Linked DNA regions of Homo sapiens. The protein of the gene in region 2 purifies or fractionates together with the protein of the main gene of each other region. This does not show direct contact. Each region holds a gene or a part of one and is shown on either strand. Other genes may lie near its edges.

The links. The genes of interacting proteins can lie anywhere in the genome.
Region 1: the proteins of ING2 (region 2) and SIN3B purify together in Homo sapiens (affinity purification with mass spectrometry; 2 studies listed by BioGRID and IntAct, with this or other methods). This does not show direct contact.
Region 3: the proteins of ING2 (region 2) and TARS3 purify together in Homo sapiens (affinity purification with mass spectrometry; 2 studies listed by BioGRID and IntAct, with this or other methods). This does not show direct contact.
Region 4: the proteins of ING2 (region 2) and SUDS3 purify together in Homo sapiens (affinity purification with mass spectrometry; 3 studies listed by BioGRID and IntAct, with this or other methods). This does not show direct contact.

What each region holds. Positions count from the first base shown.
Region 1 is NC_000019.10:16,867,303-16,870,942, forward strand, and holds part of SIN3B (paired amphipathic helix protein Sin3b), read left to right. Parts: intron 1-2,157; coding exon 2,158-2,773; intron 2,774-3,640.
Region 2 is NC_000004.12:183,510,472-183,513,047, reverse strand, and holds the end of ING2 (inhibitor of growth protein 2), read right to left. Parts: coding exon 2,096-2,576; 3' UTR 619-2,095; downstream 1-618. UniProt on the Homo sapiens protein: Seems to be involved in p53/TP53 activation and p53/TP53-dependent apoptotic pathways, probably by enhancing acetylation of p53/TP53. Component of a mSin3A-like corepressor complex, which is probably involved in deacetylation of nucleosomal histones.
Region 3 is NC_000015.10:101,679,429-101,683,068, forward strand, and holds part of TARS3 (threonine--tRNA ligase 2, cytoplasmic), read right to left. Parts: intron 1-3,640. UniProt on the Homo sapiens protein: Catalyzes the attachment of threonine to tRNA(Thr) in a two-step reaction: threonine is first activated by ATP to form Thr-AMP and then transferred to the acceptor end of tRNA(Thr).
Region 4 is NC_000012.12:118,410,960-118,414,599, forward strand, and holds part of SUDS3 (sin3 histone deacetylase corepressor complex component SDS3), read left to right. Parts: intron 1-113; coding exon 114-198; intron 199-3,375; coding exon 3,376-3,474; 3' UTR 3,475-3,640.

The DNA.
Region 1 (3,640 bases), on a different chromosome or scaffold from region 2:
AGGGGGCCAGGGCTCTGAGTCATTGGGTTCGAGGCTTTCGGCTGCATGTCCTCACTGCAGGCTCACAAGGCCTGAGTCATAGAACCAAGGCCAGCGGGGCCCTCAGGTTGCCAGGAGCTGGGCCTGTTAGTAGCTGTGTGTAGGGAGTGCCTGCTTGCAGGATCCTGAGGTGGGAAGCTTGGCAGGGTGCCGGGCGTGGTGATAGCCAGCTGTCGGGAAGGTCCTTGGACACTCTGAGGAGGTGGCTTAGGAGGGCACACTACTCCCCAGGCAGTGCCCAGATCATGGCACGGGCTGCGTTATCAGCCTGGTGCCCACCTGGGCAGGGGGTGTTGCCTCACCTGATTTGGTTTCTTGCTCCTGTCACTGCACAGTGAGCGGTCGCTCCTTCTTTTACAACACAGAAACGGAATCCACAGGAGCCGGGCTGCTGGCCCAAGGCCTCTCCCAGAGCCTGTGGGACTGTGGGGACCCCCTTCCCTCCCACCTCCCTTCCCGTGGGCCACCCTCGCCCCAGGCCCACCCACAACCACTCTGGCTTCCTCACTCTAGTCCTCGGCGATCCTCAAGCCCAAGACCCCGTATAGGTTCTGTGGGTCTGTGGTGTCTGCAAAGTGCAGATGATGAAGTAGCCCTGGAAATCCACCAATGCGACCCTGAGTTCCTGGATCCCTCCCTGGGGCTGGGGCTGACAAAGGGAGGGGCACCAAGGTTCATATGCAGATCTCTGCACATGCAGGTCCTTGATGAATTCCAAAGTCAGAACCCCATTCCATCACGTGATTTACAAAGCATGGTTACAGATCATGGACATGGGGACCCTGCTTCAGAGGGGACTGTAAAGGAATTTTCAGAGTGTTTATGGCATAAATGAGACCTGGGGGACTTAGGAAGCAGTCAGAGGGCGATGGTCACACTGAAGAGCCCAGAGCAGGGCTGAGCGTGCAGACTCCTAGGAACCAGGTCAGTGTGCTTGGCCCTACCAGCCTCTAAGCCGCCTTGCAGGGGAGGAGGAAGGGAAACCTCAGGCTGCTAGGAGACCCGGTCCTTCCCTCGGGAGCCTGCAGAGATGGCATCCACGCTCATTTTCCCCAAGAGCCCTGCTGCGTCTGCCTCCCTGCCTTGGACTGAGGGGGTTGGGGCTGCCCAGCAGAGGCCCTGGGTGCCAGGACAGTGGTGTGGGAGGCTGGAGGAAGGGGTGATTGTCTAATGGTGTGAGGGAATGAAAGTCATGATCTAGATAAAGACCAAGGGGAGGGGTGAGCCTGGGACAGGGTTTTCCAGGGAGTGAGAGCAGATGGGCATGTGCAAAGGCCCTGCACACGCAGGAGGGAGCTTGGCGCGGTGAGGCTGGAGGAGCTGTGGAGGGGCACATCAGGGGCCGGCGTCTTCTGAGCAGCCTGGGAAAGCCTGAAGGGCATTAGTTGGGGTGACCATGCTCCTGTGGGCCAAGTCACCCTGGACCCAGTGAGGAGAGTGGTTGGAGCAGGCTGGTGGGAGCTGGTGGGAGGGCTGGTGACATGATGGTGGTAGCAAGCACGTGCAGGGGCTGGCGGGGACAGCAGCGGAGGCGGGGGCTTGGTGACGATGGGCGTGCAGGTCTTCAGATGTGAGCAGTTGCAGGCCTTCCGGGTAGTAGATGGAGGGCAGAGGCAGAGAGGTCACGGCTCACCCTTTGCCTCCTTGACTTCATCGATAGCATGGTGTGGGCAGCCCCGGTCGAGCTGGAATCAGGCGCCACCGTTGCTTTCAGTAGGAGGAGGTCAGCCTCAGAGGCTTCTCCATGCTGAGCCACGGGGCCCCGTTCTGTCCTGGAGCTGGGCTGAGCGACAGACCCAGGCTTGACGCTGTCAGACCCCCTGTGAACCCCGCCCCACATCTCAGAATCCTCTTGGCTCCTTTGTCTGGGGTCCCGGGATGACTTGGGTCTGCCTCACTTTCGGAGAGGGGACCAGGAGCACATGGGGCTGCACAAGAGGTTGAGGCAAGCGACCTACCCCCCAGGCCCTGCTGCCTCACCGATGTTCGCCACCCATCCTGCTCTGGGCAGCGCTCATCCACCTTGGTGGCCCAGTTAACAGCGAGTCGTGAATGGGCACTGGGGGTCCTCTGGGTGCTGGGTGGCTTTCCACCTAATGGCCGCCCTTCCCCCCACAGCACCAGGAGCAGCACTCGGAGGGCCGCAGTGCCCCCTCTAGCGAGCCGCACCTCATCTTTGTGTACGAGGACCGGCAGATCCTGGAGGACGCAGCAGCGCTCATCAGCTACTACGTGAAGCGGCAGCCGGCCATCCAGAAGGAGGACCAGGGCACCATCCACCAGCTGCTGCACCAGTTCGTGCCCAGCCTCTTCTTCTCTCAGCAGCTGGACCTGGGCGCCTCCGAGGAGTCAGCTGATGAGGACCGGGACAGCCCCCAGGGGCAGACCACAGACCCCAGTGAGCGGAAGAAGCCGGCGCCAGGACCCCACAGTAGCCCCCCAGAGGAGAAGGGGGCCTTCGGGGATGCCCCGGCCACTGAGCAGCCACCCCTGCCGCCCCCAGCCCCGCACAAGCCCCTGGACGATGTCTACAGCCTATTTTTTGCCAACAACAACTGGTACTTCTTCCTGCGCCTGCACCAGACCCTGTGCTCCAGGCTGCTGAAGATCTACCGCCAGGCGCAGAAGCAGCTTCTGGAGTATCGGACCGAGAAGGAGCGGGAGAAGCTGCTGTGTGAGGGCCGCAGGGAGAAGGGCAGCGACCCCGCCATGGAGCTGCGGCTGAAGCAGCCCAGTAAGGCTCCAAAGCCTGCCGGGAGGCCCCGGGGGGTGCCTGGGGTTAGGGGTCACAGCTCATGATCTGACATGTCCTGTTACTTTTCTTTCTGGCTTTTCATTTTAAGAGAATTCTGTGATTTCAAATGGGAAATTGCAAACAGGAAGTTGCCAGCATAAGACAGAGGTCTCACGTACCCCTCGCCCAGGCTCCCCTGGCCGTGGCACCTGTCCTGGGTGTAGCACCCTCTCCTGACTGGGGAACATTTGTTTCTCATGGGCTTTCTCGTGGAGCCGTCATGGCCCAGCTCCACAGTACCCTTTTTCTTTCTTTTTTTTTTTTTTTGAGATGGAGTCTTGCGCTGTTGCGCAGGCTGGAGTATAGTGGCAGGATCTCGGCCCACTGCAACCTCCACTTCCCAGGTTCAAGTGATTCTCCTGCCTTAGCCTCCCAAGTAGCTGGGATTACAGGCGCTCACCACCATGCCTGGCTCATTTTTTGTATTTCTTTTTTGAAATGGAGTCTTGCTCTATTGCCCAGCCTGGAGCACAGTGGCATGATCTCGGCTCACTGCAGCCTCCGCCTCCCAGGTTCAAGCAATTCTCTGCCTCAGCCTCTGAGTAGCTGGGATTACAGGCACCCACCACCATGTCCGGTTATTTTTTTTTTGTATTTTTAGTGGAGACGAGGTTTCACCATCTTGACCAGGCTGGTCTTAAAACTCCTGACCTTGTGATCCACCTGCCTCGGGCTTCCAAAGTGATGGGATTACAGGCATGAGCCACCGCGCCCAGCCCAATTTTTTGTATTTTTAATAGAGACAGGATTTCACCATGTTGGCCAACCTGGTCTCAAACTCCTGAACTCAGGTGATCCGCCTGCCTC
Region 2 (2,576 bases):
ATGATATGAGATCCAGAATACTCAACAAAAGAAATTCCAGTCCTAATGCTACGCATGCTTAAGACTTCTATTTCCAAGATGTGTAGAAAACAAAACAAAAAAGTCATAAAACTGTTTCAGATATTAGGTCTTAAAGAGAGCACACCTTCCAGGATTTTCCAGGTTCGTTTTCCCGTCAAGTCTAATCCAAACTTTGGCATTTCTATTAGGAAGTCGTTTCTTTTCTCCCATCTGCCAAGGCAGATTTACGTATGAAAAAGTGGTGACTTCTATGTAAGTCGCATCTGAAGGCTTTGGGGGTTTTGTCCATACTGATATTTTTAATGGTGTCAAGTAAAAAGCTCCATTCTGGTAACAAGGTTGTAATCACTAAAACAAAATGCCATATTCTCAAAAGGATTTCCTTACAACTCAGCTAAGTTATGGTGATGAGAAAGGATTTGCTAAATTCTTAATCATGCTGTCTAACATTTCTCACTCAAAAGGTAATAGAATCAACTAGCTCTAGTCATGAATCCAAATATTCTTAGGACAGAAGCTAACAAATATTGCACATTTACCCATCTCCAAACTCACCTTTAAACTATCTTTATACCTCAGAATGAAGGACAAAATTAATGAAAAGAGAAGTCATGTCATTATTAAAATCCTCACTATAGTGCAAATAGTAGAAATTTCCAAGGAATCTCGGAGATATTTAAGCCAACTCATTTTACAGGTGAATGACCTGACACCCAGACAAGGTGAAATGACATGCCTAAAAGTCACACAGGAGAGCTAGAAGAGAAAAAAAGCATTTTTTTTTCCCAAAACAAGCAGACAGGATTTTTCATGTTAATCAAAAAGAATCAAGATCATCAGATTAGGAAGAAATGAGGAATAAAACATACGTTACACACAGATTTAAAGAACTAGTCAATCTGCTGCCCCCAAAACCAAAACCTTCTCTAAACATATGGACATATATCCATCAAGATGCTTACCCTTCAAATATCAGAATCTTGGAAAATTCAATTTACAAATACATTAATTGCATTATGATGATGAAATAAGTTAATTAAATGTGAAAACATCAAACAGCACCAATACTAGAAGTTAAGACAGTAAATACACTATTATTTAAAATAGTCACTGATTGGGACAGAAATGAACAATAACCACTAGCAAAACCATTTAAAACAACTCTCTGACATAAAGGCAATATTTAAAGACTACTATATGCCCCTTTCCACTGATAGGCCTGTGGCTACGCATCCTGGCAGCAGGTCACATGGAAAATACTATTAATTAAGATGTATTTTTAAATTGTTCAACCTTGAGCCGTGATACTATATAACCCAAAGTTTGCCAATGTAAGCCAATGTATATTTTTGGTATGCTAACTACTCTTACCTGTCCCAATTAAAAGAAAACACAAAACAACTCCCTTATTAAGCACTAGACTAAGTATATCTACAAAGCAGCAGCAAGGCATTGACAAATGGGCTACTGACAGTGGATCAAAATGCTACTAAGCAAAAGACAGCAGCACGTACTCTCATAAGAGCACATTATTCCACATGGAATCCCAAATTACTCTTATCTCCAGTTCCTTAAACTCCTAGAAGACTAGAGATGAACAAGCCAACGTATAAATAGGACTAGGGAAAAAGCAGCTCAAATGGCATAGTGTCTGTATTTTAAAGTACCCAAGATCATTTGATGCTTAAGAGAAATCCCACTACATCTAACATTTTTTTAAGCATGTATAACTAAAATGCTAGTGAAACTTTTGTGTTTACCCAAAAAATAACATTGCAGTTTTAAGTGAAAATGAAATAGGCATGGTTTGTGAAATTTTTATAATGTTTACACCACCCTCTTCCTGTTCCCTGCTCCTTTCATCAGGTGATCTGAAGACTACCTGGTTGGAAATATTTGGTAACTCAGTGCAGAAAATTAAGGTCACAGACAAAGTACAACAACTTTTAATACACCATTAATACTAATGATTAAAAATTATTGCATAGTCTTATGCATTTACCCTAAAACATTTTCTGAAAGCAAACGAATTATATAAAAGACAAATAACCCTTTAAAATGTGGATGGCCTTTACTACCTCGATCTTCTATCCTTTTTTGTCTTTTCAGTACTTTTGTCCATTGTTTTCTCATTATCTCCCCTGCACTTTGGGCAATACCATTTCCCCTTTGGTTTATAGGTAAGTGAAACACATGAAAAGTGAAACCATTCAATTGGACACTGTTCATTGTCACATCCTATCATCTCCCCATAAGACACTTGGTTGCATAAGCAGTATGTAGGTTCATTAGGATCTATTGCAAACTCAACAGGTGAAGCTTCCCTTTCCTGCTTGGCCTTGGAGCGTTTCTTTTTCTTTGCTGACTTGGATTTCTTTTCTTTAGGTGGCTGATCATCACAGTCTTCAATCCCATTTGCCATGTGACATAAATCACGGCTTTCACTGGTCCGCTGCCTGCGGGGTCTTCTTGAAGATCTTTCTGGTTGGCTGGAATCCATCTTTGCTTTATCTGAGGCTCGTTCACTTTCAGCAGGATCTTGGAAACACTGTGAG
Region 3 (3,640 bases), on a different chromosome or scaffold from region 2:
CAGTTCAAAATTTCCATTTGGTTCTTCTTTATATCTTCTATTTCTTTCCTGAGATTTTCTGTTTCTTCGCTGACTTTGTAATTTTTGTTTGTTTCAAGTGTGTTAGTAATTGCTCATTAGTTAGTAATTGCATTTTTATGGTGGTTGCTTTAAAATCTCTGGCAGATAATTGTAACATCTTTGTTATTTCAGTGTTACCGTTCATAGATTGTCTTTTTAAATTCAAGTTGAGATTTTTCTTGTTCTTAGCATGATGAGTGATTTTCAATTTCTTAAACCTGGACATTTTCGGTTTTATAGTAAGCCTCTGGATCTTAAATGTTGTTTTAGCTGACTTCCACTGACACTCTTCCAGCAGAGGGAGGACAGTACTGGACAGTTACTGGCAAGTGGGAAAAGCAGTCCAAGCTCCTTTTAGAAAGGAAGTAAGGGGAGAGGAGCTCCTCGTTACTTCTGGGTTGCACAGGTGTTCTAGCCCCCCTCCATGGCCTTTACTGCACACAGAAAGCATGGCCTCATGACCAATTGGCAGTGAGAAAGTCTTATCTTTCCACTAGACGTCTTCTGACACTACTCAAGCAGGACTGGAAGAGGCACCTCATTACTTCCAGGGGAGGGCAAAAGTCCAGGCTCCCCACATAGTCTTCACTGACACTGCTGGGTTGGGGGAGGGGGATGGGATCTTGTTAATGCAGGAGTAAAATTCCCAGCTTCCTAATAAGCCTTCTCTTACCCATTCCAACAGGTATTGAGGTACTTATTTAGAGCCTGCTGAGAGTTAAAATATAAGCTTCTCAATCAGCCTTAGCTGGCATATAAAGGGCCACAGTTTTTTCTGTGGTGTCTGGTTGAAATAGAGTAGATATTGTCTAAAACTTTTCTATCTTTCTAGGCTGCCCCTTTCCTAGTCCTTTGGCTACAGCAAGCAGACTTCTGTTGGCCTGTTTTATCGATGCCTGTTGGCATCTGTTGGTTGCCAAGTCTGGAATATATGTGGCAAAACAAAACAAAACAAAAACACCTAAGGAACTCACTACCATGTTGTTTCTTAGGTCCTGATGTCCATAGCCAGTGTGCCCTTTTTCTCAACACCTTTCAGAGTCTCGTGTTTGTTTTATATGTAATATCCAAGGTTTTTACTTGTTCTTAGAGGGAAGGAAAGGGAAAGCACCTGCTTCATCTTCCCCAAAGCAGGTCTTTTTTGCTCATTGTTTAACTGGGTTGTCTGTTTTCTTATTGAGGTTTGAATATTTGTTAAGTATTCTGGATTCAAGTCCTTTATTTGATATATGCCTCACAAATATTTTCTCCCAGTCTGTAACCTGTCTTTCCTGTCTATGATCAGTATTTTTTGAAGAGCAGAAGTTTTAAATTTTGAGGAATCCAATTTATCAACTTTTTTCTTTTATGGATTGCCCTTTGGTGTCATATCTGAGAAATCATCACCTATCACCTAATTACAAAGATTTTCCCCAATTTTTATTCTAGAAGTTTTGTATTTTTATGTTTGACATTTAGGCCTGTGATTCATCTTAATTTTTTCATATGGTATGAGGTATGAATCCTCATACCTCATGTTTTGCATATGGATACACAATCATTCCAGCATCATTTGTTGAACATATTACCTTTCCTCCATTTTATTGCCTTCGAATCTTAATTAAAAATCAGTTGTCCATATATTTGTGTCTATTTCTAGACTCTGTTTTGCTGATTTATCTATCTAGACCAGCATGATTACTGTAGTTTCTCATAATTCTTGAAACCAAGCATAGTGACTCTTCCAAATTTGTTTTTATCTTTCAAAGTTCTTTTGGCTATTCTAGGTTCTTGTGCTTTCTATACGAATTTTAGAATCAGCATGTCAACTCTTACAGGGAAAAAAGGTCTGCTTGGGTATTGACTGGGATTGTACTGACTTTATAGATCAACTTGGGGATAACTGATATTTTAATAATATTTAGTCTTCCAAACCACGAACAAGGTATATTTCATTTATTTAGGCCTTCTTTAAATTTATCTCAGCAATGTTTTAAAGTTTTCACTGTATAGGTTGTGTATGTATGTATTACTCAGCTTGGGCTGCCAGAACAAAAATCCATAGGCTGTGTGGCTTAAATAAGAATCATTTATTCTTCACAGTTCTGCAGGCTGGGAAATCCAAGATCAATGTGCCAGCTGATTCAGTTCCCTGGTGAGGGCTTTCTTCCTAGTTTGCCAACGGCTGACTTCTCACTGTGTCCTCACACGGCAGAGAGAATCAGAAAGCCTCTGGCATCTCCTTAAAAGGGCACTAATCGTATCATGAGGGTTCCATCTTCATAATCTCATCTACACCTAATTACTTCCCAAAAGCCCCATTTCCAAACACCATCACATTGGGGGTTAGGACTTCAACATATAAATTTTGGGAGTCACAATTCAGTCCATAGCAACATATTTGTCAGTCTTATCCCAAAGTACTATCATATGTTTTGAGATGCTATTACAAATTGTTTCTTATTTGCAATTTCCAAGGGTTTATTATTATGAAATGCATATACAATTCATTTTTGTATGTTGATATTCCATACTACAATTTTTCTAAATTCACCTTACTTCTAATAGCTTTCTGTAGATTCCATCTGATCTCTACATAGATGATCATGTCATTTACAAGAGTTTTAATTCTTTCCAATCTAGGTGTTTTTTATTTCTCTTTCTTAACTTACTGCATCAGAAAGAACCTGCAGTACAATGATCAGAGAAGTAATGAGATAATCCTTACCTAATATCTGATTTTAAGAGTAAAGCATTCAGACTCTCACTATTAAGTATGAGGTTAGCTGTAGGTTTTTCATAGAGGCCTTTTATCAGGTTAAGAAAGTTCCCTTCCATTCCTAGTTTTGAGAGTTTTTATGAGATATGGATGTAGAATTTTGCCAAATACTTTTCCCTGCATCTACTGAGAAGATAATATGCTTTTTGTCTTTTTGTTTGTTTTCTTTTTTTTAGTTTGTGAATGTGGGGAATTACAATGATTCATTTTCTAATGTTAAACTACCTTTTCATTCCTGGGATTCAGTCCATTTGATTAAGATGTCCTTTTTAAAAAATTACTAGATTTGACTTAGTAAAATGTTGTTTAAATTTTTTGATTTTATGTTCATGAGAGATGTTCAGTAGTTTTCTTTTAATTTCTTTGTCTTATTTTTCTATCACAGCAATATTAGCTTCATTAGCTTCATGAGGTGGTGAAGATTTCCTCCTCTTCAATTTTCTGGAAGAGTATCTCTAGATTGGTATTATTCCTTCTTTAATGTTTGGTAGAATTCACCAGTAAAACCATCTTGGCCTGGAGTTTTCTGTGTAGGAAGGTTTTTAACTATCAATTCAATTTCTGTAGTAGACACAGGGCTATTCAGATGATCTACTTCTTCTTGAGTAAAGTTTAATAGTTTTGTCTTTCAAAGATTTATCCATTTCATCTAAGCTGTCAAATGTATGAGCATAAAGTTATTCATAAAACTGCCTTATCTTTTTAACAGCTACAGAATCTGTAGTGATGACATCTGTCTCATTCCTGACATTTTTATTTGTCTTTTTTCCCTCATCAGTCTGACTAAAGGTTTATCAATTTTATTGATCTTCTCAGAGAACC
Region 4 (3,640 bases), on a different chromosome or scaffold from region 2:
ATTAAGACTTCTTTAATTATAATTTTTGTTGTGATGGTGTTTTTGTTTTGTTTGGTTTTTACTTCCTGTCTCTGTCCCTCCCTTTTTAAAAATGTGTGCCTTGTTTTTGTCAGGTACCACAAGAGCCAGGCCATCTATCTGGAGTCAAAGGACAACCAGAAACTGAGCTGCGTGATCAGTTCTGTAGGAGCCAATGAGGTGGGAACCACACTCCCTCACCTTTAGGGAAGCAAAATGTGTACTGCGAAGTGTTGGTAGGGCAAACCTGAAATGAAAGTGCCACCAAGGAAGTACAGTGGAGTACTGTCTTCTATGTGGGTTAGATTCTAAAGTCAGGCAGAAATTGCACATTGTCAAAATCATCCTTGAAAAGTCCTTACATTCGCTTGACTACAACATATGCGGATTTGTCTATTCCATGGGGTATTTGTGAACTCCCGGTACAGCTACTGATTTGGGAACCACGGAGCTAGATTCCAGGAAAGAACAAAAAGCAAGTCTGTGTGGTGTCTGTACATTCAACTCCTGCTTCTTTTTTTTTATTTTTATTTTTTTTGAGACAGAGTCTCACTCTGTTGCCCAGGCTGGAGTACAGTTGTGCTATCTTGGCTCACTGCAACTTCCACCTCCCAGGTTCAAGTGATTCTCCTGCCTCAGCCTCCTGAGTAGCTGGGATTACAGGCACCCACCACCACGCCCGGCTAATTTTTGTATTTTTTTTTAAGTAGAGATGGGGTTTCACCACGTTGGTCAGGCTGGTCTTGAACTCCTGACCCCGTGGTCTACCCAGCTCGGCCTCCCAAAGTGCTGGGATTACAGGCGTGAGCCACCACACCTGGCCAACTCCTGCTTCTTTTTAAGGTAACCATCTACTGAGAATGGAGCTTGACTGTGGAGCATACTCCATCTTGGTTTTGTTTCTCTAGAACTTTCACACATACCAGTAGATTTGTTTCTTGCTGTGAGGATTGAATGAGGCACCTGGCACAGGGTCTAGCACCCAGTAAGTGCTCACTAAGTGAGTGCTGGCCTGAAACGACCCACACGCCACTTGCCTGCCGTCTTTCCTAGCTGAGATGTCCTATTGTGCTTCAAAACAAGTTGCCAGGGTTATGCCCTTGGTTTTTGGTCTCCTCGAGACACTCCTTTAGGATGGATGGGGTCTGGTTTTAAAGTCAGCTCAGAGGGTTATACCTGAGGATGATATGACTGCCCTCTGAGTTCTCCAAGTGGTCTTTCATGAGGAGTATATAAGCAATGTGTAACTTATGTTGTTAGTTAAAGTTAAAAACTTTAATAGCTGGATTGGCTTGATCTTTTATCAGTCCACAAATGTCTGCAAAGAAATTGATTTCTATGTGTCTGCCCTCTGTAACTTATTCGTGCCAGTGCACAGTAAATGTAATGAAACTGGATTATGAAGTAACTTAAGCCTCTTCTATTCTTCCAGCTTCCTGAATTGAAAATGCCCTGAAATGTGACTAGTTTGCAAAATGATTGTTTACTTAGAAGTTAGGGAGAGCCTTCTAGATAAATGAATGCCATTCTTCTCTGGGCTGAGGATCCGTGTGAGTCCCCTCAAGCCAAGTCAGAACCAGAACAGGGAAGCTAATAGAGAGACCTGGTCCTCAGCCAAGAGGTGTCACGATTTCATGGTAATCATTTGCACCTGGCTGTCTGGGTTGTTCCACAAGCACATGTGGCCTTCTAGTACCTGACCCTAACTTCAGAACCAGTGCATTATTCTCCTCTATGATACCTCAAGATTTTTCAGAAAAATATAAATGCAAGTTAGATTGTTTTTCCCCTCTCTCTGCCGAATATTGTCGCGTCTTGACATAATAGAGTGTCAGTGAGATCTGACAAATGGTGACACTGAAACACGTCTTCTGGAGGGGAGAAGCTTCAGTGCACTGAAGACATGCAACTCTGGCAATGGGGAAACCGTTCTCATTTCTTGAAAGTGTTCCAGCTCATTTTTCAGATCAAATTCTAGGTGACACTGGAGCTACTTGGCTTTAGCATAGCTTGACTCCAAGCAGGTTTGGTGGGTAGCTCTGAGTGTGTGGATGACTCCCTGACTTAGCTTTTCTTGGGATCAGTTTTTCATTTAAAATGATTCTGCAAGGTCCCTTGGAGGCTTAGCTTCATGTGAGGTCTTTAACTTTTTAAATTTTTAAGCCAGTGTATTTGACTTTAAAGCAGTAGAGATACTGCTGAATAATCACATTAAAGAAATTGAGATGAAACAGAATAAGCTTTTTTAAAACCTGAAAACTGAGTCCAGGAAGGAGGAGATAAATCTGTAAACTTGTATATTTGGGTGAGATGCAGACCTTTCAAAAAACTGTGCTTTTGGCTCTATTTAATTGCATGTTACAGAAAAACAGGCAAGAAGAAGCCAGAGACTGCTTTAGTAGAGAAGAGCCAGGGGCTTTGATGTCAGACACCAGAATTCACGTCGTGATAAGTGACTCAGCCTTGCTGAGCTTTGGTTTCCTCTTCTTTAAAATGGGGCCAATGATAGTAGTTATTTCATAGGGTTGTCTTGCGGGTGAAAAAGCTCAGCCTGATCAGCATGGTGTCTGGCACACAGAGCTCAGTAACCCTGGCTCAGGGGGTCAGGTGACTGGCAGCAGCTCCCCTTCTCACCCATGGCTTTAGGATGCCCCTTATTGAGTGCACTTTGTCAGCCCTGGCAGTCCCCTGTTGCAAGAGTTCATTCTCAATTCAATGGAAGAATGCATCTGCCCTGTAAAATGCACTGTAATCTAATACTGTCTGTGAGAGGGGGATATGGTGAGGAGGGAAGGACTCTCGGAAGTGCTTCAACCTTCTCATGATCCTAATTGGGCCTTAGCTCATTAGTGGGCATTTTTCTATTGTTGATATTTTTTCCCTGTTTTTCTGCACAACCATTAGCCTTCATTGCCAGGAAACCAAAGTATTGAAAGTTTGTATAATATGGAAGTCCCTTGGAGCAAGGAAAATACTTCCAAATTTGAAAGTTTGTGTTTATGAATAGATGTCTCTTGAGTGTTGATAACACAGTAATCAAACCAAATTTAAAAGCATCTTTAAGATCAAGGCAGAAATGGAACCCAAGATTGCTGTGCTTTCCATTTTCGTAATCACAGGTGTGAGAGAGATGGCTGAGAAACGAGTTCAAGGCTGATGCCTGTTCCCAGCGGCATGCCTTTAGATGGCCCGAGGTCAGGGGTGCTTATGAAGCCCTCACAAGTTGAGACAGTTTATTCCAGCAAGAGGCTACCAGCCTTCTGCTTGCATCTCACTCGTGCAGATATTTTGATGGTGTAGGAGATTTGCTCTTCTGTATTTAACTTTTCATCTTGTTCCCTTTCCTCTCCCCTGCAGATCTGGGTGAGGAAGACAAGTGACAGCACCAAGATGAGGATCTACCTGGGCCAGCTTCAGCGCGGGCTCTTCGTGATCCGCCGGCGCTCAGCTGCTTGACTTTCTACAGTGCTCTTCTCTTGACCCTTTTTCTGGAGTGGGTTTTATTTTTGTTTTGTTTCGTTTTCTCCTTAATAGAAAAATGTTAACTTACTGGGAATAGCTACTCAGCCTTGGAAATGGAGAGCACTGCAGTGAATTCTTTAGGGCACTTTTGTGGCCGGAT